3 linked regions of the Homo sapiens genome follow. The protein of the gene in region 3 interacts with the protein of the main gene of each other region in a pairwise test. Each region holds a gene or a part of one and is shown on either strand. Other genes may lie near its edges.

Region 1 (8,202 bases), on a different chromosome or scaffold from region 3:
CCTACAGGGGATATGTATTGAGTATTTGAAAGACTTCGGAAATAACTGTGATTGTTCCTTTACAAATGGATTTTAACTGCATGCTTTCATATGGCCTTGTTACTAGGTAATCAAATGTTCTGTGTTACTTCCCTGTATATTCTGGATTCAGATCTTTCTGAGTTTTATTTGTGGCTAGTATCTCCTAGTTGGTGATTATTTTTCACTCTTTGTGGTGTTTTGGTGAGCAGACATTATAAATTTTAATGCAGTTGAATTTATCATTTCTCATTATTTTTACAGACTCTTCCCTATCCTCATCTTAAAGATTTTCTTCCTAATCTAAAAGTTTTAAAGTTTTGTCTTTAATCCACTTTAATTTGATTTCTCTTCTATGGTAGGGACCAAATTTTATTTTTTCCACATAGGTTACTAATTGTCCCCGCACTGTTTATTGGAGCCTTTCCCCGCACTGATATGCAGTACCATATCTGACACATCAATTCTCTATATATGTTTGAGTCTGTTTCTGATGTCTCTAATCTAAATTAGTGTCACATTGTCATCTTTACTGTAGAAATGCTGTAGCTCTATAATAACTTAATATTTGTAGAGAAAGTGCCTAACTTTGTTTTCCCGCTTGGATCTTTTTTTTTTTTTTTTTTTTTTTTCAATTTGGCTGTTTGCCCTTTTAAAATATTTAGAATCAGCTTGTCAAATCTGATGAAGAATCCTTTTGTGGTTTATATTTGAATTGCGCTGAATGTGTGTGTTAGTTTAGGGGATAATTTATCATCTTATTCGTGAATATGATATATACCTCTGTTTAGCTCTTCTTCTGTATCTTTACATAAAACTTTGTATTTTCTTTGTGAAAAGATAATACATATTTTATAGGATTATTTCTTTGTACCATTTTTGTTGTTCTATTATAAATGGAATCCTTTTAAAATTTTAATTGTGACCAGCTTTGAAGAAGCATCTCTTATGACTTTTTCAGCTGATAAATTTTCCTGAAGATTATAGCAAAAGTACCAAATTTTGAGGGTATTAAAAAGCAGAAATTAATTGGGGTGTATCTTATCACATCTGTTTTTAGTAAGTGTGAAAAGGTCAATATTGTCCATTTATTTGTCTTTTCACTTAGAGATTGTGTGAGAGAACTAATATTCATAGACCCTGTTGACTCAGGTAGTTTTCAAAGTGTGTATGTGTTTAAGTGGTGTGTGTGACTTTTTTCTGAGACAGTGGTGAGAAAATTGACATTTTTACTCTTTAGAATAGTTCTTAGAAATGTATATTTAATATACTAGTTGAGGTCATTGTGTTCTATCAGGAAAAAAAATTGTTCTCTCTGCTTCCTTTTGTGTAATGTTCTTCTGTTTTTCTTTTTTTCACTTGACCAAATATCTAGCTTATTCTGTGTTTACTTCAAGTCGCATTTCCTTTCATGCCTTCCCAGACCATTTAATCCATAGTTATTTCCTCTTGTTAATTTCTAAATTCTTACAGATTCTACTTATAAACATAGAATGGCCTCCATATTGTATCATTAAATGCAGAGACCAAGGGCACAGTACAAAGGGTCCTATTTTAAAGATCTGTGTGTGTGTGTGTGTGTGTGTCTGTGTGTGTAAAAATTTTTGGAGGAATGCACTAAAAAATTTTTTTTATGATAGTTAACTTTTAAAACTGGGTCTGAAAGGTCTAAGATGGAAGGAAGAGTTTTACTTCATGTGCTTTTATACTATTTGAAAATTTTGCTATCTGCATGTATTACTATTTATTTTCAGGGTTATAGTGTTTATTAAGTATGTAACAGTAGGAGTTGGCTCAAAATTATCTGGAAAAATAAGAAGTAAACAAGATTGCCAAAATGTTGATGATAAGTGAAGCTAGATAATAGACCCATGGTGATTCATAACATTATTCTCTCCTTTTATGTATATTAGAATTTTTCACCATAAAATTTTAAAAATTAAACATTGATATATTCTAGCTATAATTTAGGTCTGAAATGGGCTTTGCAATTCGAAACACTTGTAAATGTATCAGGACACTAAAGATTCCTATTTTTTTATTGCTATATAATTCACCTACCACAAAATCATCCTTTAAAAAAGTATGTAATTTGGTGGTTTTTATTATATTCACAAGATTGTGCAGCCATCAGCAGTATCAAATTCCATATCACTTCCCAAAAAACCCACACTGATTATCAGTCATTGCCCCTCCTTCCCTATTCCCAGCCCCTGGCAACCATTATTGTGACATGTGTAACTACTTTATTTCTCTTTGTGGTTGAATAATATTCCACTCTATGGATTTACTACATTTTGTTTATCCGTTCATTAGTTGATGAATATTTGGGTTGTTTGTACTTTTTTGACTATGTATTCATTACTTGTTAAAGTTTAAATATGTAAGAAAAGACCTATGGTTTTTGTTTGTGTTTTAGGTGGGGGGAAATGATTCTATTTTTATTCTCAAAACCGTTTTTGAAAAACTTTACTGCTAATAAATTATGAGGTTTTGGAACATACACTGTACAGTTTCATTAAAAGTAAAATTCTTGTGTCATTTAAGTAGAAATTGTTTGTATTTTAGATAACATTTGGTCAGCCAGGCTTGGACATTCAGAGCAGAAGTATGGAATACGTACAGCGGCAAATATCCAAGGAATGTGGAAGCCTAAAGTCCCAAAATAGGGTAAGTAATGTTAGTTTATCTTGTGATATGGAATTTAACTAATTAATAGATAGGTAAAGTTTTCCAGTCTTTCTAATTCTCCATATAGTTGAATTGTACTAGAAAATTTTTCATTGTATAAATTTGCTGCCTATGTGCTTAAACGCTGTTAGTTAAAAACTCTGCAAACTTCTCATTTGAGTCTAAAAGATTGCCAGAGCTGCATTTATTAGATAGGACCAAAAGGAATTATATATTGTTAATTAAATAAACTGTATCTGTCACCCCACCTTTAGCTCAGACCTAGAATTTTCTTAGCCCTAATTCCATGTATCTAGGAAATAGAAGTTTGCCCCAAACTGAGTCAGATGCTTACTTGTAGTAGACTAGTCACTGTGTCCAGGGACTGGAGCTAAAGATACAAATTTGTCTACTTAGAAGCCTGCATTTATGGATGATGTAAGGGGTCAAAAGACTTAATTTTGTTCTTTGGCCTCAAAGAACCAACCTTCCCAGAAGGGTTGTGGAAGTAGGGGTATTTTACGTCATTGTTCAGAGACTTTTTGTGTACCCAAGCTACACACATGTGTGTCTTTGTATTAATTTGCTAGGACTCCCACAACAAAATATTACAGACTGGGTAGCTTCAACAACAGAAATTTATTTTCTCACAATTCTTAGAAGTTCAAGATCAAGGTTGTTGGTAGGTTTGGTTTCTTCTGAGGCCTTTCTTCTTGGCTTGCAGGTAGCTGCCCTCACATGGTCTTTCCTCACTTTGCCCTCACATGCTCTTTCCTCTGCCCGTACATCCCTGGTGTCTTTCTCTGTGTGTCCAAATTTCCTCATAAAGAAAACAGTCAGATTGGATTAAAGTCTCTCTTAAGGGCCACATTTTAACTTAGTCACCTCTTAAAAGGCTCTATATCCAAATACAGTCGCATTACTGGAGGTTAGGGCTTCAGCATATGAATTTGAAGAGGACATAAGTCAGACCATAACATTTTGTCCTTTGTTCCCAAAATCATGCCCTTCTCACTTGCAAAATACATTCATCCTTATCCTAACAGCCCCAAAGACATAACCCATTCCAGCATCAACTCTTAAGTCCCAAATCTCATCTAAATAACGTCTTTCAATCAAGTGTGGGTAAGTGGCTCATGCAATAGTAGAGGTACAGATCCAAAACAGGGTAGGCTGTCTGGAGACCCAAGAAATAGTTGTAGTCTGAGTCCAAAGGCACCCTGCTGGCAGAATTTCTTCTTGCTCAGGGGGAGCTCAGTCTTAGTTCTAGTAAAGCCTTCAACTGATTTTATGAGGTCCGCCTATACCACAGAAGGTACTGTGCTTTCCTCATAGTCCACCAACTGAAATGTTGATCTCATCCCAAAAACATATCATAGAAATGTCCAGAATAATATTTCAACAAATATCTGGACACTGGCCCCACCAAGGTGACACGTAAAATTAACCATCATAGCCCTCATTGCAGTTTTTATCTGTTTCTTTTTTAGGTCCCTTTGAAATCAATCAGACATGTCAGCTTTCAAGATGAGGATGAGATTGTCAGAATAAACCCTCGAGATATCTTAATACGTCGCTATGCAGACTACAGACATCCTGACATGTGGAAAAATGACTTGGAAAGAGATGATGCTGATTCCAGTATTCAGTTTTCTAAACCAGACAGTAAAAAATCAGACTATCTGTACTCTTGTGGGGATGAGACTAAGTTAAGTTCACCCAAAGACTCTGTGGTATTTAAGACGCAGCCTTCCTCATTAAAAATTAAGAAGTCAAAACGAAGAAAAGAGGATGGTGAACGTTCTCGCTGCGTATACTGCCAGGAAAGGTTTAATCATGAAGAAAATGTTAGGGGAAAATGTCAGGATGCTCCAGACCCTATTAAAAGATGCATATATCAAGTTAGTTGCATGCTCTGTGCAGAGAGCATGTTGTATCATTGTATGTCAGACTCAGAGGGAGATTTTTCTGATCCCTGTTCGTGTGACACTAGCGACGACAAGTTCTGCTTGCGATGGTTAGCCCTGGTAGCTTTGTCTTTCATTGTACCATGTATGTGCTGCTACGTCCCTTTGAGAATGTGCCATCGCTGTGGTGAGGCATGTGGTTGCTGTGGTGGGAAACATAAAGCTGCTGGATGAAATGGTCCAGTGCCAAAATGAGCTTAAAATCTTTGTTTCCAGGAATTAGCTAACTTGGATTTGTGGAAGCTTTTGGCAAGCAATATGGAATCTTGCCTGGTATCATTGAGCCCACACATGGAGGAAGCAGAACTCATCAGTTCTTGGCGTTTCACGCCATGCCTAACTTTTCCCTTGAGTGCATGGCATGTTTTGTTACAGGTTGTAGAGTATTTGCAGAAGGAAACCATTTCTGGTTATTTGGCTATAAAAAGTCAGCATAAAATATGATCCAACTAAAAGGGATTAATTTTTGGCATTTTTGTATATTTATGCATTAGGTGATGGGACTTTTAAAGGTTTGAATTTATTAGGACACGAACTAAAAATAAAAGTGCACTAGGGGACAGTTGATTTCAATCTAAGAAAAGTTAACACTTGGGAATTACAAGAAGTAAAACAAGTGCAACTAAATCATTTATTAGTTGTTTTTTGAAAGCAGTTTTATGTATAAATAACAAATGTTTATATTTAACTAAATGTAAGGTACGAATTATTACATATTAAACTTTTCTTCCCCTTCCTAGTTCTGAAGTAGATATATATATATATATATCTACTGTCACATTCCATATATTTTGAATATTTAACTCATCTAGTTAATAATGTTTTTATTCCATGCGAATGATTTGATATTTTCATCCTTATTTCTCTTTGGCTACAATTTATATTGAGTTATATCTGTACATTCTGGTAATCTAAAATCCTTAAAAATACTCTAATAGCCTTGAGTGACCAACTTTTTTTTTAAAGCACAGATGTAATTGTCTAATGTTCTGATGGGAACGTAACACTTATTTTTATATAAAAAGAGACTGAGTAAACAAACATTATAGAAAAAAAGTGAAGTTTTTTAGTTGTTTTTTGTGGTATTCAACCAGCAAGTTGTTTTCTTTCAGAGTTTCCTCCTTCAAAAAGTTATATTGCATTTACAAATGTTTTACAAGGCAGAAAGTTTGACTGGATAGTTAGTGTAAAAGCTTCATGTTGAGATCTTCACGTATCATTCTGCTAAACCAGAATATGTTCAGCTGTGTTACTAATTTTTCAGCTTAATCCTCAGTGCTTATTATTTACATAACAATAACTTTTTATCAGTTACATTTTATTTTTATTTAAACTGGCCAAAAGCAAAATTATTTTATGTTAAAATGTGTGCTAAACTATCCCAGGAAAGTATTTAATCCAACATTGTAAATGAAGTATCTTGTACATATAAATTTATTTCTTTTGCAGAGCATTATATTACTGGATGTTTAATTTACAAAATAGTTGGGTAAATGTTCCAACAAACTTTAAAGTACCTTGAAGTCAAATTGTCTGTTTTTGTTTTGTTGTTGTTGTTGTTGTTTTCTTAAGTGTTACATTAAAACTCTAACCAAGGAAAGGGTTCTTTAAGAACATTCCCTTAGAGGGATAAAGTTGAGAAGTGTGCCTTTTTTTTAATGGCTTGAAGTTTCAGAGGTGATAAAAATTAAAATCACACTACTATTTGAAGCTCATTTTCTATGCAGGTTTTTAAACGTCATTTATGTATCATTCTTTTTATATATCACACTTAAGCTTGTGTTAGCTTTTTTCTTTTGCCCCAGATCAAACTGAACAATGTATATAACACTATCTGTCTGTAAAATACTTTTTTTAAGAAAGCATTTATATTTATATGACAGCTTGAACTGACAACATTGTGTATATAGATCATCTTGAAGTATTATTTCACATTGAAAAGAAGAAAATATATTGATAACTATAGATGTTATGAAGAAGAGGGTATTTCTAGTTTTGTACTAAAAATCAATTGGATGAACTAAATCCAAAACATGACACTGTAGGCAGCAGTTTTAAGTCTTATTTTTACTGTTTATATATTTGAATGCTGCTACAACAGATGATCTTCATCCCTGAAGTTTTCAGCTAAACTTGGTTTCCTAGAATAGACTGTTAACTTTCAAAATTTTTATTGGTGAAATGGAAATACTGTTTTTCCTTGTGAATGAATTTTCATATTTGTAAGTGCTAAGTTTATAATTCAGGTTTGATCAAGGTGTGAATAACTGAAGAAAATAACTTGCTGGCTATATAGGAAAATGCTGTGGAAATGAACTGTGTATATACTTCTGGGAGGAACAAATTTAATCATTTCTTCTGTTAAGCACTAATCAGTATAGTGCAACTCCTGGTTCTGTACTGTATTTTATATGCAACATATATGCTTTAATATTTTAATGTTTGTGCATTAATATTTTCAATTTGTTTAACCACTTTGCTGCTAAGATTTTGCCGTCCCATTCCCATTTTTTCCTTTACAATTTTAAACAAGTTTCTTCATTAAAAACTATGGTGATGAAATGGTTTTTATTTTACCTTGGATCTTTATAGTTAACATACCCAGTTTCTTAATCAGTCTACAAGACTAACTGATGATATAATGTTCTCTGAATCCCTATATGGAAATTTTCTTTTGAGTAAATGAGAATTCCTTTGTGAAAGCAAATGGGTAGTTTAAATCACTGATTCTTAAACATGTGTATAGGCACCTTCAGGAACATTTTCTCATTCTCTGTACAGATTCGGCACTGCCAATTGGCTTTTCCTCTAAAACTTTTCTTTGTTTTTATCTGATATAAGCAGATGGCTCAAGACAACTGCTTGAGTAATAGTATTGAAAATGGAATCATCTAGACGGCATGACAAGCAAGACTGGTCTGATGAACTTGTTCAGAATTGATAATTCTTAAATATTTCTCTTGGCTTCAAAAGGGACATCATTTGATTTCTGAAGAAGTATGTCGTGTGGAGCTTCAGCACCACCTACTGGATGATTTCCAGGCCAGAGACATGAGATGGCAATAGGGATCTGACAGGGTTCATCACTACTACCATTAAAGGGCTATTTATGTGGTGACCACCTCTACCAGGGAAACCAGGAATAAGAACTGTCTCAAAGGAATTGTAAAATGGTTATTTACCTAATGTGTCTTGTTGGCTTGCTGAAAGATTTTAAGCACTTTTTTCTTACATATCCTGTTTTAAAATATTTGTTGATATTTGGGACTGGCAATCAAACTTAATGGATGTACTGAGGCATTTATAGAACCAGTTGCTTTAACTCTCAAAAGCCATTACCAAAATGGTATTTTTTTCCTCCTTCCGCCAGTCAGGGAGAATTTTTAAAAATAATAATCAAAACATGAAAAAACATAATCACACCTGTATTTTATCATGACAGCTTCAGAGAGTGTGTGTGTACGTTTTTCTCTCTTTTATTTGAGACGGAGTTTCACTCTTGTTGCCCAGGCTGGAGTGCAATGGTGCGATCTCAGCTCACTGCAAC
Region 2 (4,218 bases), on a different chromosome or scaffold from region 3:
GTGTCTGTGAATGATGTTTTGGCCCGAGCTGCAGCCAAGGGTCTGCTGGATGGGATTGAGTTGGGTAAATCATCAAAACGGGAGAAGAAGAAGAAAAAATCAAAAACATCATTGACAAAAGGTGCCACTACTGATAATGGCATCCAAATGAAAATTGCTGAGTTCCTGAATCGAGAAACTAAAGCCAGTGCTAATCTATCAGAGACTGTAACAAAACCACCTCTTCCCCAGAAAAATACTGCTCAAGTGGGGGCTTCCTCACAGACCAGAAAACCCAACAAGCTGGCCCCCCATCCTGCAGTGCCTGCATTTGTGAAGAACACTTGTCCCTCCAGACCGCGTGAACGGCAGACACACTTCTTAAGACCTCGGCCAGAAGACAGAATGGTTGCTCTGAAACCCATCAAGATTGTTCTGCCTCCAGTCTTTATGCCATTTTCAAGTCCCCAAGGGATCAGATCTCGGATGCCAACTCAACATTTGTACTGTCGTTGGGTTGCACCCAAGGCACTTGTGCCCACCTGCCTTCCCACACACTCACTATCCAGAAAAGAGGAAAAGCCTAAAGATGACACACCTTCCTCCCTACTCAGGCCTCCTCGGCGATGGCTTTGATTGTCTTGTGTTTTTTATAGGGGCCAAAGAGCAGTTGATTTTTTTTCAAAGTCTAGTATTTCTCTGAAGATTCTACATCTCTACACAAGATATTCATTCTTTTGGTCACCTAGGGATCTTCTAAGTGTGATATTACTTTCAGAGAATTCAGACAAGTGAGAAACAATAATGTAGGAGTCAGCAAAGCAGAATTCAGAGACTTCAGCCAATCACTGCTGCTCTGAGAGGATCCAGTTAGAGACTCAGTATCAGCGGTCAGAACTTATCTCACTCCTGTGAACTTTCAGGCTGGACTTAAAGCTGCCAAGTTTCCCCTGCAGGGAAGGAAACACTGCCTCCCTTCAGCAGGTAGCTCATTAGAAAGCCAAACAGGCAAACGATCCTGGCCTCTCCCGCCAGCTGACCGCTCTTCAGCATCCATGCGGTTGTAGTCGTGACTTTCTCAGTCACGATCAAGGGTGATTTTTTCTTAAATATCAAGCTGTTCTTTGAACAGGGAATGAACATGAGTTTTTGTAACGTGACTGAAGTTGAGTTTAAGTAGGAAGCGCAGGAAGTTCCCAAGTGCCAGGTGTGTGTAGCTCAGAGTTCCTTTTACAGTGAGGTGTCTCTCACTGGGGGAGCTTCCAGGATCCTGAGCAGACTGGACACAATCATCTCTCCCTTCCTCTATGTCAAGCACTGTTACAAAAGACTGTGAGCAAATTTCCATCTAAATATTAATAATTCTGAAGAAGAGGCAAAACTGTTGAATGCAAGCGATACCTATTGTTGAAGAAACCCACAAATTTCTGATTCTAAGATCAGGGGATACAACAAAATCTACAAGTCATTTCAAATAGCACACAGGAATCAAACTTTGGTAAATCATTTCTGAGGCACAATTAAATATATTGTAGCACTATGTTAATTAATTATATTAAATGTCGATTCATCTTGAATGTATTCTCAATTGCCTACCAAAAATTGGTATGATTATCATTTCTGGGTCTACTGATTTTTCATCATGGCAACAGAAATTGTCATTAAATAGAATTAAGATACAACTATATATCTTATTATTTAAAAACATTCATAGACATATTCATAAAGTTTGAATTTAAAGTTTTATTTTTGCAATTCAGTTGTATAGAAATGTTACATAAATTCCTAAATGCTCAATTCAGGTGGCATGATTTTTAGAATATTATCTTCTTCAAGATGAATACTTAGGTCTACTTCAGCTCTGATATTCTATTTTTACTTTCTTACTTGAAGTGAGAAAAGAGAATGGTGAATTGTATTATAGCGGTAATACATTATTTTTATTTTAGCTTAGATTTACATTTATCAGTAAAACGTGTCAGTGGGCTGGGTGCAGTGGCTCACATCTGTAATCTCAGCAGTTTGGGAGGCTGAGGTGGGCACGCCACTTGAGCACCGGAGTTCCAGACGAGCCTGGACAACATGGCGAAACCCCAAAACCCCATCTCTACAAAAAATACAAAAATTAGCTGGGTGTGGTGGGACACGCCTGTAGTCCCAGCTACTTAGGAGGCTGAGGTACGAGGATCTCTTGAGTCCAGGAGGTGCAGGTTGCAGTGAGCCAATATTGCCCCACTGCACTCCAGCCTGGGAAGCAGAGTGAGACCTTGCCTCAAAAAAAAAAAAAAAAAAAAAAAAGTGTCAATGAAGAAAGGAAACAAGACTTTTTATAGTTGAACCAGGCTTATTGTATTTTAAATCCCTGAAGAAGAATTCTTCATGTTATCACTCTTGTACAGAAAGATATAAAGTGCTCAGCTTATTTTGCTGATTTTGAAAATCAAACACTATCTCCTTGCCCTAAAATTATAGCGTGTGGCTCATCCTCTTATCCCACCCAGATTTCTATCTGGTTGGTTAGGGTAGTCCATGCCTCAAGGAAGGCGGTGCAGCTTAATTTAACATATTGTTCAGTAAAGAATCCCATTGTGTATCATAAGAATCCCTTATCCTTTTCGGGCCCTCCACCATACCAGACTGAAAAGTATTCCATTGTCCAGAAGTAGCTGGTCTTGAGATTTTTATTTTCAAGTGTATTTTCTGTGATGTTGTCTCATTGTTATGGAATAGTTTAGGATAATTTTCTGATCTCTACAGTAGCATGTGAAGTCACAATTTGTTGCCACTTACATTGATTATCTCCTAACATGCATTTGGCACTAAATTATTTTTCTCTTTAGAAGTATATGAAGATTCTGAATTAAACCATTCATTAATTACACTGCAGTTTTCTTCTTTGAGAATCTTCTATGAAGGACAGGATTATTTAAATACTTTGGTAGAGTGAAAAGGGAAAAGAATTTTGGATAAAAGCAATATGAGGCCGGACGTGGTGGCTCACATACTTTGGGAGGTTGGGGCGGGCGGATCACCTGAGGTCAGGAGTTCGAGACCAGCCTGGCCAACGTGGCGAAACCCTGTCTCTACTAAAAATATACAAATTGGCCAGGCGTGGCGGTGCATGCCTGTAATCCCAGCTACTCAGGAGGCTGAGGCGAGAATTGCTTGAACTTGGGAGGTGGAGGTTGTGGTGAGCTGAAATTACACCACTGCACTCCAGAGTAAGACTCCTCTGTCTGAAGAAAAAAAAAAAAAGCAATATGAGGGAATTCTAATGAAGGAGAATATTGATTCCACTGACATGTTTCATTTGGCATTTTACATTCTTGGACTTCTTCTTGAGATAAAAGTGCTGCAAAATTCTAAATAATGAAATTACTAGTATTCAGATACTCCAATAGCAAACACATTTTTAATCTGAAATTATTTACCACCATATAATGCCTGAAACCATAATGAAATTTTGTTACTGACTAGAGAGAAACCACTGTGGAAGTGCAAGATGAACAAAAAGCGGGGACATACTTTAAATTCTGTTTATCTGCCTTCCTGCGCCTAACAGTTAAGCTAAACCAGATTCAACTGATTTCTCTAGTTACCTTTCATTTTGGATTTAGTGTGTGTACACCTCTATTCTTTATTCTTTGATGTCAGGTTCTTAAAGGAAGTGATAAACTTCTTCGTGCTAAAATATCACAATCCTAGCAAGACCGCTTACAAAAGACTCGAGTTGGTGACTAAATAGGCTTCTATGTCCGGAAGGCCAGCTGGCCTTCCTGATCACCAAATAAGTACAGGGTGATTACTCAAAATTTGAAGTTACTTCCTAGTTCTTACCAGGCAGAAATATGTAGTAACTAATCAAAGCAAAATGCTCCATTACTAAAGTGATTTCTAAGAAGTCTGAGGTAAGAATAATTTAAAAATAACTAGAGACACCGAGTTTCTATTTCTATTCCTTGTATATGTGACTAAGATGTCAGATAAATGAGCCGAACGTTTTATGCAGCTAAATTTATTCTCACAACAAATTACATTTAAATGTGTAAAAGTGGTCAACAGGAAAAGGGCATAAAGGAAAACAAAGCGTTCTTTCAGGGGAAGTAAGCTGCTCTGGAGGCCAGGAACTACTGCTTGCGTTGACACGGTGTGAGTGGGTATCTTTGCCCTGAAGCTGAAGTTAAACTTTCTACTGGCCGTGTGGCACACACGTTAGATGTGTATTAGGTTAAGCCTGGC
Region 3 (9,373 bases):
CTTAGAGCTGGCCATCCCACCAACCTTAGGGAGTTAAAGCGGGGAGTTGGAGGGAGGCGCACTCCAGCCCAGCTTCTCCGTTTCAACCAGAAATACTTGGCTTTTCTCTGTTTCTCATATGGGTCATTCGAATAATTTGAAGAGTTGATCTGCTGGGGAAAAGAAAAAGTTTAAAAACCAATTCTCCATCTGAACTACTCACTTTGCAGATGAGAGACAAGAAGTGACTCACCCAAAGTCACCCAGCTAGTTAATGGTGACATGGGACCCATGTCTTCAGACTCATGGTTTTCGTAAAGACAGAAGGCTGCATCCATGCCGTCCCCCTACTCAGTGCGTGTTACTAGCTAGATAATAAGTGTTTGCATGTGATCAGGAATCCTTCACGGCCAGAAGACTCATGGTAGAAATCCAGGAACTGTGGAAGAGGGGATCTGGGGGAAGGGAGTCTCCCTAGAGCCCCTGATATGACATCATCTACCCCGACTGAGCCGATGTCTGAAGCAAAACCTGCTTATACTCTCGGACCTGTGGCTTCCTGGTTTTCTTCTAGACCTCTGGCACTGCTCCAAACAGGGAAGGAGGAAATGAAGATATGCAGAGGGAGATGGAGCCCTAAGCGAAACTAGGGTAGTTTAGCAGGGCTCTGCACCAGTGCTTTATTCTGCAGTCCATTCATCCACTCGGACATTATTGAGTGCTTACTCTAGCCCAGGTGCTGTGCAAGGTATTATGGTGAACAAAATAGACATTGTCTTTGACCTCATGACATTTAGAGTGTAGTGAGGCAAAAAGACATTTAATGAATAATGGGCAATAAATAAATACACAATTTTAATGGTTGTTAATAAAGGGCAAAAAGGAAAATGGGCTTCGGGTGCTTGGTGGCTGCTCCCAATGAGACCACCAGAGAAGGTTTCTGCAAAGAGATGACAGAAGAGCTGAGACCAAAGTATATAGGAATCCAGCCACGCACAGTGGAGGAAGAGCGTTGCAGGCCCAGGGAACAGCATGTGTGGCCCCGAGGTGAGAAAAGCTCTTCCAATTTGAGAAAGTGAAAGGAGCCCAGGGTGATCAAGGTGTGGTGACCGGAGTAGGCAAGGTGGGAGGGTATAGTACTCGGGACCTGTGAACTCAGGAGCTCATCTGGATTTTATTCCAGGGGTGAGCGGTAGGGTAAGGTACCTGATCCTATTTCCATTTTTAAAACACCATTCTAGCTGCAGAGCAGAGGACAGGCTGAGAGGGATAAGATCGGGAAGGGAACACCCGTTCGGGCTGCAGCAGTGTGGCTCAGGCGTGTGATGGTGGTGCAGGTTAGGCAGTGGCAGAGGAGATAAAAGGGGATGGGATAAGTGATATCTTTGGGGACAGAATCAAAGCCACTTCCCAAGAAGCAGTGGAGTTCTAGGGATCCAGTTGTAGTTTCTGTCAAGGTTCATGATGCCAGATCCATGGCTATTTAGGGCTGTGATTCCAGTTGAATTGCTTGACCTCTCTGTGCCTCTATTTCTCCTTGTGCAAAGGAAGCCAAAACTAGTAAAGCTTTTAGTTAGAGCCCAGCACCCAGTAAAGACCACAAAGCAATGCATGACCTAAAAATGGGACTATGTTCTCAGAAACACATCGTTGTATGAACAGCACAGAGAGTATTTACACAAACCTAGATGGTAGAGCCTGCTACATGCCTAGGCTATACGGTCTAGCCTGTTGCTCCTAGGCTACAAACCCATACAGCTTATTATGTTCTGAACACTGTAGGCAATTGTAACACAATGATAATTGCGTGTGTCTTTCAACATAAACTTAGAAAAGGCAAGGTAAATATATGGTATTATAATCTTAGGTGGCCACCATCACATATGTAATTCACTGTTGATCAAAACATTGTTATGGATATATGAGGCAGTTGAAATTATTAATGCAAATGGATTTGAGAGAAAGGAAGGGTCAAGGTTGATTTCAAAGCCGTGACAAAGTCCTCTGCATCAAGCTTTGAGAAGCCCCTGAATCCCAGAGTGTGTTAGAAGCAGATCTTTAATACTTACCAGAGGCCGTAAACTGTATGTAACCTTGACTCATCATTTCCCCCACTGGGAATCGATTCCACGGAAACCATCAAGGACTTCTGCAAAGATGTGAGTAAAGAGATGCCCATCCAGGCGCTGGTTTAACGGTGACGTATGGAGAACTACGTCATCATCCAGTAATAGGACATTGATTAAGTAGATTCTGCTCCATCCATAGGAAGAGATATTATGCAGCCTTTAATATGATGTGGTAAAACTATTAATATGGATATATACCTAGGATATAATGTCATTAAGCGAAAAAGAACCAGCAACAAAACCATATTACCATATAATCCAATTTCCAAAAGTGTGTGTGCAATGGAAAAAATGTCTGGAGAGATAAACAACCAGATATTAGCAGTGGTTATCTCTGGGGGCAAGATTATAAGTTTTTTTTTTTTTTTTAATTCTCTTACCTGAAAATTCTAACTTTACTCCATCCAGTAAGCTTGTATTACTACACGTCAAGATCTCCTGTTTCCCCCCAAATCAGACCTACCTTCTCTGAAGTTCCATGGCCAGAACTGTAAAAGGCTGTCCAAGAGGAGGAAGCATCATTATTGCCTGGATCTTTATCTGTGCTGCTCTCCCAGGGATCCACTGCTGTTTCAGGATCAGCTGGGGAGAGATTCTGGCCATGTATCACCTCCACCCCAAGCCAGGACATCTCAGCTACAGTAAATCCTAAACACCGCCCCAAAGTCATCTCCTTGGTCTATGAACAAGTCATCGCCAAATATCAATTGTCCCCAGCATCACTCCATTGTTTTCAACCAAGAACTGGCATTTCCATAGCACTTCACAGTTTACAAAGGGCCCTGGCCCTTGCTAAGATCTAAGTGTGGTGATCCATCTAGATAGGTTACTAGCCTTTTGGGATTTTTTGTTGTTGTTTGCAGAAAGCCATTTGATACTCTAAAACCACCCTGTGAGAGAGGCTGAATGGGGAGTAGAAAGGTGCCGGCTTTGGAACCAGATTTGGAACAATTTGTCTTGGACAAATGGCTTAACCTCTCTGAACTTCATTTTCCTCTGTAAAAAAGGCTAATCATCCCACTCCTACAAGGTTGCTCTGGGGAAGGAATAGTCTATACGGTGCCCAGTAGAATACGGAAGGCGCTCAATACAGAGTTAGCATGATTATTTTTAGACCCATTTTCTAGATGGGGAAGCCAAGGCTCAGAAGGGTGAGGCAACTTGCCGAAGTCTTCCCAGCTAAAGAGTGGCTGAGTTTGAAAGATGAACCCAGTAGCCTGCCCTCCCAGGCCAGAGTTCACCTGTCGCGCGCTGCACGGCTGCTGCCTCTCTGGACTCTGGAGCCCTGTGACCCGTCCCTCCGCGACCCTCTCTGTCTCCTTACCTGCTCCCTCGGAGCCGCCTCCTCCGCCTCCGTTCGTGCAGCCCTGCACGCATGTGCTTTGTTTTCTGACTTCCCAGGCCCGATTTCCAGGTAGCGTGGGTGGGTCTTATTTGCATAGGTCTTAGCAGCGTTTGGCCAGCTCTCGCTGTTTCAGGTTTTCTTCTTCCTTCTGGTGACTTTGGACCTCCTGTACACCCTGGAAGCTTTGGTTGCTTTGTCTTTCTCCTGTGAGTCACTCTGGCTTTTTCTCTGAGGGGATCAAGTGCGCTCATCCTTGCAGGCCTCTGTTCTGGGTCCGATTGATCTCCTGCCATCCCCTCGGATTCCACTGTCCTCTGTGCGCTGACCTGCCTCGACTCCTGGCTTCTGCCGAGATGGATCCTTCCCTATGCTGAGTCCCTGTAACCAAAATACAGATAGCTCTTGCAAAATACTGACAAAAGCGGCCACTAATACAGCAGAAAAATAGTCGGGAGACGGTTGAGCGTCTGCCTGAAGAGCCAGGGTTCTCAAGCAAGGCACACTTCTAGGTCAGAGTTCAGCCCTCACTGAGAATCCAAACTCCGTTTAACTACCGATGGAGACTTGAGCAAATTAATTAACTTCTGCCAGCCTCAGTTTCCTCACCTGAAAATGGCCATAATAACCTACCTACTTGATCTGTAGATTAAATGAGGTAATACGTGTCGAGATCGCGTAATAACACAGGGCCTGGCAGACAGTAACTCGCTAAATGTTAACCAGAACTATTATTGTTATAACCGGTCTGTTCACGTGGCCCATCTTTTGTTCCCGCTCAAATTCTTTTTGTACCTATGGTCCTCTTTTCTTTCTCTCTCTCTTTCTTTCTTTTTTTTTTTCTTTCTTTTTTTTTTTTTTTTTTAAGACGTAGTTTTGCTCTGTCGCCCAGGCTAGAGTGCAGTGGGGCGATACTGGCTCACTGTAACCCCCACCTCCCTGGTTCCAGCAATTCTCCTGCCACGGCCTCCCGAGTAACTGGGACTACAGGTGCGCGCTACCATGCCCGGCTAATTTTTACATTCTTAGTAGAGACAGGATTTCGCCTTGTTGGCCAGGCTGGTCTCAAACTCCTGACCTCAGGTGATCCACCTGCCTCGACCTCCCAAAGTGCTGAGATTACAGGCATGAGCCACCGCGCCTGGCCCCTTATTTCTTTACTGACATTTTCAGCCATACTTGAGAAATAAACAAGTAAATAAATGTATCTGCTTGGTGATGTAATCAAATGCCCTAGTCCCCGCATTTTGTGTTTTTTTACATTAATTTTTATGTATTGATTTATTTTGAGACAGAGTCTCACTCTATCATCCAGGCTGGGGTGCGGTGGCACGATCACAGCTCACTGCAGCCTCAACCTCCTGGGGTCAAGCAGTCTTCCCACCTCCGCCTCCTGAGTACCTAGGACTACAGGTGCATGCCACCGTGGCTGGCTAATTTTTGTATTTCTTGTAGAGATGGGGTTTCTCCAGGTTGCCTAGGCTGGTCTCAAACTCCTGGGCTCCAGCAATCCACTTGCCAAAAGTGCTAAGATTACACTTGAGCCACCGTGCCCACATTTGATTTTTAAATAGGTAATATATTTACATGGTTGAGCATGTGAATGGTTTGATTTCACAGTGAAAACTGTCTCTTCGCAGCCACCTAGTTTCCCTGGAAATCAAAGTATTATACTATCAGTTTGTTGTGTATCTTTCCAAAGATGTTTTATACATACACAAACAGCATGTCCATGGCAAAACATCTATGTATTCCTTTACCTCCTTTTTACACAAATGTGCATATTATGTACACTGTTCTGCATTTTTCTTTTTTCATTTGATGATGTATTTGAGATATCATTCTGTATTAGTACATAAAGACCTTCTTCGGTTTTTGGCCCAGCGCTGTGACTCACACCTGTAATCCCAGCACTTTGGGAGGCCAAGGCGGGTGGATCACTTGAGGTCAGGAGTTCAAGACCAGCCTGGCCAACATGGTGAAACCCCGTCTCTACTAAAAATACAAAAATTAGCCGGCGTCATGGTGCACACCTGTAGTCCCAGCTACTCAGGAGGCTGAGGCAGGAGAATCGCTTGAACCTGGGAGGCAGAGGTTGCAGTGAGCTGAGATTGTACCACTGCACTCCAGCCTGGGCGACAGAGCAAAAAAAAAAAAAGAAGACCTTCTTCGGTTTTTTAATGGTTGTATCAGATTTCATTGAATGGCTGTACCATAAATCACTTCACCAATCCCCTATTGATCTAACCCCCTCATTATAAATATATAAATATTGAATGAAAGAATAATGCAAAAATGCTGATTTTAAGTTAGCCTAGAATTGTGTGAAAATAAAACTGTGGACTTTGGGAAGTTTTAGATCTCTAAAGAAAATGTCTAAGTAATTCTCCTCTTTCTGAGCTGGAGACGAGGTATATGATCACCGATGGCCTCAAAGTTCCTCTCAGCTCTGGAATTCCCTGCTTTTCGGTGTCACTACTGGTTAACTGAGGTTACTGGGGATTCGAGACACTGATTTAGTCCAAAGAACCTGGTTTGTATTTGAGAGTTTGGAAGTCACGCTTTCTGGCTTGGCAACATAAGAAAACATAAAGAAGTTCATCTACTTTGACCTAATCATGTAATTCCCCAGAAGCATCAAAAAGATATATTTTGGTTGAGTGAGGATATTCATTGCAGTTTTATTTTAATCACAAATGATTGAAAACACTCCAAAACCCCATCAATTAGGTGAAAAACTACATAATCATTTAAAATGATATAGAAAGATTTTCATTGACTTTTAAAAATGGTCACAGTATACTGTAAATGGAGGGGGAAAGCAGCTTAAAAATGGTGCATGTTGGCCGGATACGGTGGCTTACGCCTGTAATCCCAGCACTTTGGGAGGCCGAGGCAGGCGGATCACAAGGTCAGGAGTTTGAGACCAGCCTGGCCAATATGTTGAAACCCCGTCTCTACTAAAAAATACAAAAAAAAAAAAAACTTAGCTGGGCGTGGTGGCAGGTGCCTGTAATCCCAGCTACTTGGGAGGCTAAGGAGGCAGGAGAATCGCTTGAACCTGGGAGGCGGAGGTTGCAGTGAGCCGAGATTGCACCACTGCATTCCAGCCCAGGCAACAGAGAGAGAATCCATCTCAAAAAAAACACAAACAAACAAACCAAAACCAAAACAAAACAAAACAAAAAAACGGTGCATGTTGGCTGGGCACATGCCTATAATCCCAGCACTTTGGGAGGCCGAGGTTGGAGGATTGCTTGAGCCCAGGAGTTCAAGACTAGCGACCCCATTGCTACAAAAAATAAAAAAATAAAAAATTAGCTGGGCGTGGTGGCACATGCCTGTTGTCTCAGATACTCAGAAGGCTGAAGTGGGAGGATCACTTGAGCCCAGAAAGTCAAGGCTGCAGTGAGCCCAGATTGCACCACTGCACTCTAGCCTGGGCAACAGAGCAAAGACCCTGTGAAAGATAGAAAAGAAAAAAAGAAAGAAAAGAAGAAAAGAGAGGGAGAAGGAAGGAAGGAAAGAAGAAGGAAGGAAGGGAGGGAGGGAGGAAGAAAGGAAGGGAGGGAAGGAGGAAGGAAGGAAGGGAGGGAGGGAGGGAGGGGAAGGAAAAGAAAAGAAAAGGAAAGAAAGAGAGAATGTAGCATAAGCCAGATTTTGTAAAGCATAATTTATGTATAAAGACTGCAAGACCATGAGGCAAAATGTCACAATTTTATCTCTGGGTGATGGCCACTCATGTTTTCGCTTTCTTCTTGCTTACATTTTCCAAGTTCTCAAATATGTATTACTTTTGTAGTAAGAAAGTTCACTTAGAAAGTAAGTTAAGTCTGAGTTTTCTGCAACCAGGGTATCCAGAACTTAAAAAGATAAGCAGGTAGGGCAGGTAAGAAGTCAGTCATGACATTGTAAGCATTGAAATAAAAATAAAATAAGTCATAGCCAGGCATGGCCTGTAATCCCAGCACTTTGGGAGGCCGAGGCAGGCAGATCACTTGAGGTCAGGAGTTCGAGGCCAGCCTGGCCAACATGGTGAAACCCCGTCTCTACTAAAAATACAGAAATTAGCCAGGCATGGTGGTGGGTGCCTGTAATCCCAGCTACTCTGCAGGCTGAGGCAGGAGAATCACTTGAACCTAGGAGGCGGAGGTTGCAGTGGGCCGAGATCGCGCCATTGCACTCCAGCCTGGGCGACAAGAGCGAAACTCTGTCTCAGAAAAATAAAATAAAATTTAAAAAGTCATGGCTTTTTTCCAGGTCACTAATTGTCTAGTGAGTCTATGCATTATCATAATGTCTGTGGGTGGTCAGGCTAAGGAGTGCTTTGCCAACAGTGAAAAATTTTTCCAGGGAGATACCCGGGAGAGATAGTGAGGCATCTCAGGAACTTGAGAGTTAAACTAATTTATAAAGTTCATGCTTGTGGGGGCAAGATCAGCCATCTGGAAAAGCACCTCACCTAAGCAGTACCTTAGACCCGGGTGAGTGAAGAGTCATGAGACTCGGTGGAGCCCAGCCAATGTCTGGAGCAGAGGCGTGGGGTGGTTTTAACTCATCTGGGAAGGAAGAGGTGGCAGAGGGCAGAAGGATGGAGAAAAGGTGATGAGTGCAGCAGGTTTAGAATCCGGCATGGTCAGTGTTTAGCAGGCCCCAGTCAAGGGCAGAGGGCAACTCTCCCTAGGGGGCCACCATGTCATCATCACTCAGAGCCTTGCCTGAGGCTTGTCTAGCATTTAGGACAGTTCCGGCAGCATAGGCATCACTTAGAGATTGTTAGAAATGCAAAATCTGGCCGGGCATGGTGGCTAACACCTGTAATCCTGGCTCTTTGGGAAGCTGAGGCAGGCAGATCCCTTGGGGTCAGGAGTTCGAGACTAGCCTGGGCAACATGGTGAAACCCCATCTGTACTAAAAATACAAAAATCAGCTGGGTGTGGTAATGGACACCTGTAATCCCAGCTACTCGGGAGGCTGAAGCAGGAGAATCGCTTGAACCTGGGAGGTGGAGATTGCAGTGAGCCAAAATTGTGCCATTGCACTCCAGCCTGGGCAACAGAGCGAGACTACGTCTCAAAAAAAAAAAAAAAAAAAAAAAAAGAAAGAAAGAAAGAAAGAAAGAAAGAAAGAAAGAAAAACAGAAATGCAAAATCTCAGACCCACTCCAGACCTACGGAGGCAGAATTTGCATTTTTACGAGATCCCTGGGAGATTCAGAGACACATTCATTACAAGTGAAGAGTACTGATTTAGGAGACATACCTCCAGTATATACTCCTTGATGCCTTCTGATTATATTCAGCTTCAGATTCATAAAGGCTCCCAAGGACCTGACACCTTAGGCAGGGCAACGTGAATCCCAGCCTGGGGATGGGCACCCCCGGCCTCTGCTGTGTGCAGCATCTGAATTTGCTTTCCAAGTCACAATCCCTTATTCAAAACATTTGGTTCCAAGTGTGTTTCAGAATTCAGAATTTTTCATAATTTTAGGAAGGTAAGATGATGCATTTGCCAACTCTCCCAATTCTCCCAGTGGGATCTGGGGCAGTACCCTATATTCAAACATTGATATCTTGCAGCTTATTATGAATATTGACACCGAAAAGAATAAACATCACAAGATCAGGTAAGTTTTGGCACCAAATTTAATGGAAAACCTTAGTTTTCAGGCTGGGTGCGGTGGCTCACACCTGTAATCCCAGCACTTTGGGAGGCTGAGGCGGGTGGATAACAGGGTCGGGAGTGCGAAACCAGCCTGGCCAATATGATGAAACCCTGTCTCTACTAAAAATACAAAAATTAGCCAGGCGTGGTGGCACGTGCCTGTAATCCCAGCTACTCAGGGGTCTAAGGCAGGAGAATTGCTTGAATCTGGGAGGTGGAGGTTGCCGTGAGCCGAGATCGTGCTACTGCACTCCAGCCT

What was found. The genes of interacting proteins can lie anywhere in the genome.
Region 1: the proteins of RNF183 (region 3) and SPRED1 interact in binary tests that used the Homo sapiens proteins (3 or more experiments, as listed by UniProt).
Region 2: the proteins of RNF183 (region 3) and APBB2 interact in binary tests that used the Homo sapiens proteins (3 or more experiments, as listed by UniProt).

What each region holds. Positions count from the first base shown.
Region 1 is NC_000015.10:38,346,836-38,355,037, forward strand, and holds part of SPRED1 (sprouty-related, EVH1 domain-containing protein 1), read left to right. Parts: intron 1-2,586; coding exon 2,587-2,688; intron 2,689-4,178; coding exon 4,179-4,829; 3' UTR 4,830-8,202. UniProt on the Homo sapiens protein: Tyrosine kinase substrate that inhibits growth-factor-mediated activation of MAP kinase. Negatively regulates hematopoiesis of bone marrow.
Region 2 is NC_000004.12:40,808,325-40,812,542, forward strand, and holds the end of APBB2 (amyloid beta precursor protein binding family B member 2), read right to left. Parts: 3' UTR 1,703-4,218; downstream 1-1,702. Other genes in the region: putative methyltransferase NSUN7, read left to right, coding at 1-615. UniProt on the Homo sapiens protein: Plays a role in the maintenance of lens transparency, and may also play a role in muscle cell strength. Involved in hippocampal neurite branching and neuromuscular junction formation, as a result plays a role in spatial memory functioning.
Region 3 is NC_000009.12:113,299,624-113,308,996, forward strand, and holds the start of RNF183 (E3 ubiquitin-protein ligase RNF183), read right to left. Parts: upstream 3,754-9,373; 5' UTR 3,433-3,753; intron 3,427-3,432; exon of another isoform or gene 2,691-3,426; 5' UTR 2,572-2,690; exon of another isoform or gene 2,129-2,571; 5' UTR 2,049-2,128; exon of another isoform or gene 233-2,048; intron 153-232; 5' UTR 1-152. UniProt on the Homo sapiens protein: Acts as an E3 ubiquitin ligase catalyzing the covalent attachment of ubiquitin moieties onto substrate proteins. Triggers apoptosis in response to prolonged ER stress by mediating the polyubiquitination and subsequent proteasomal degradation of BCL2L1.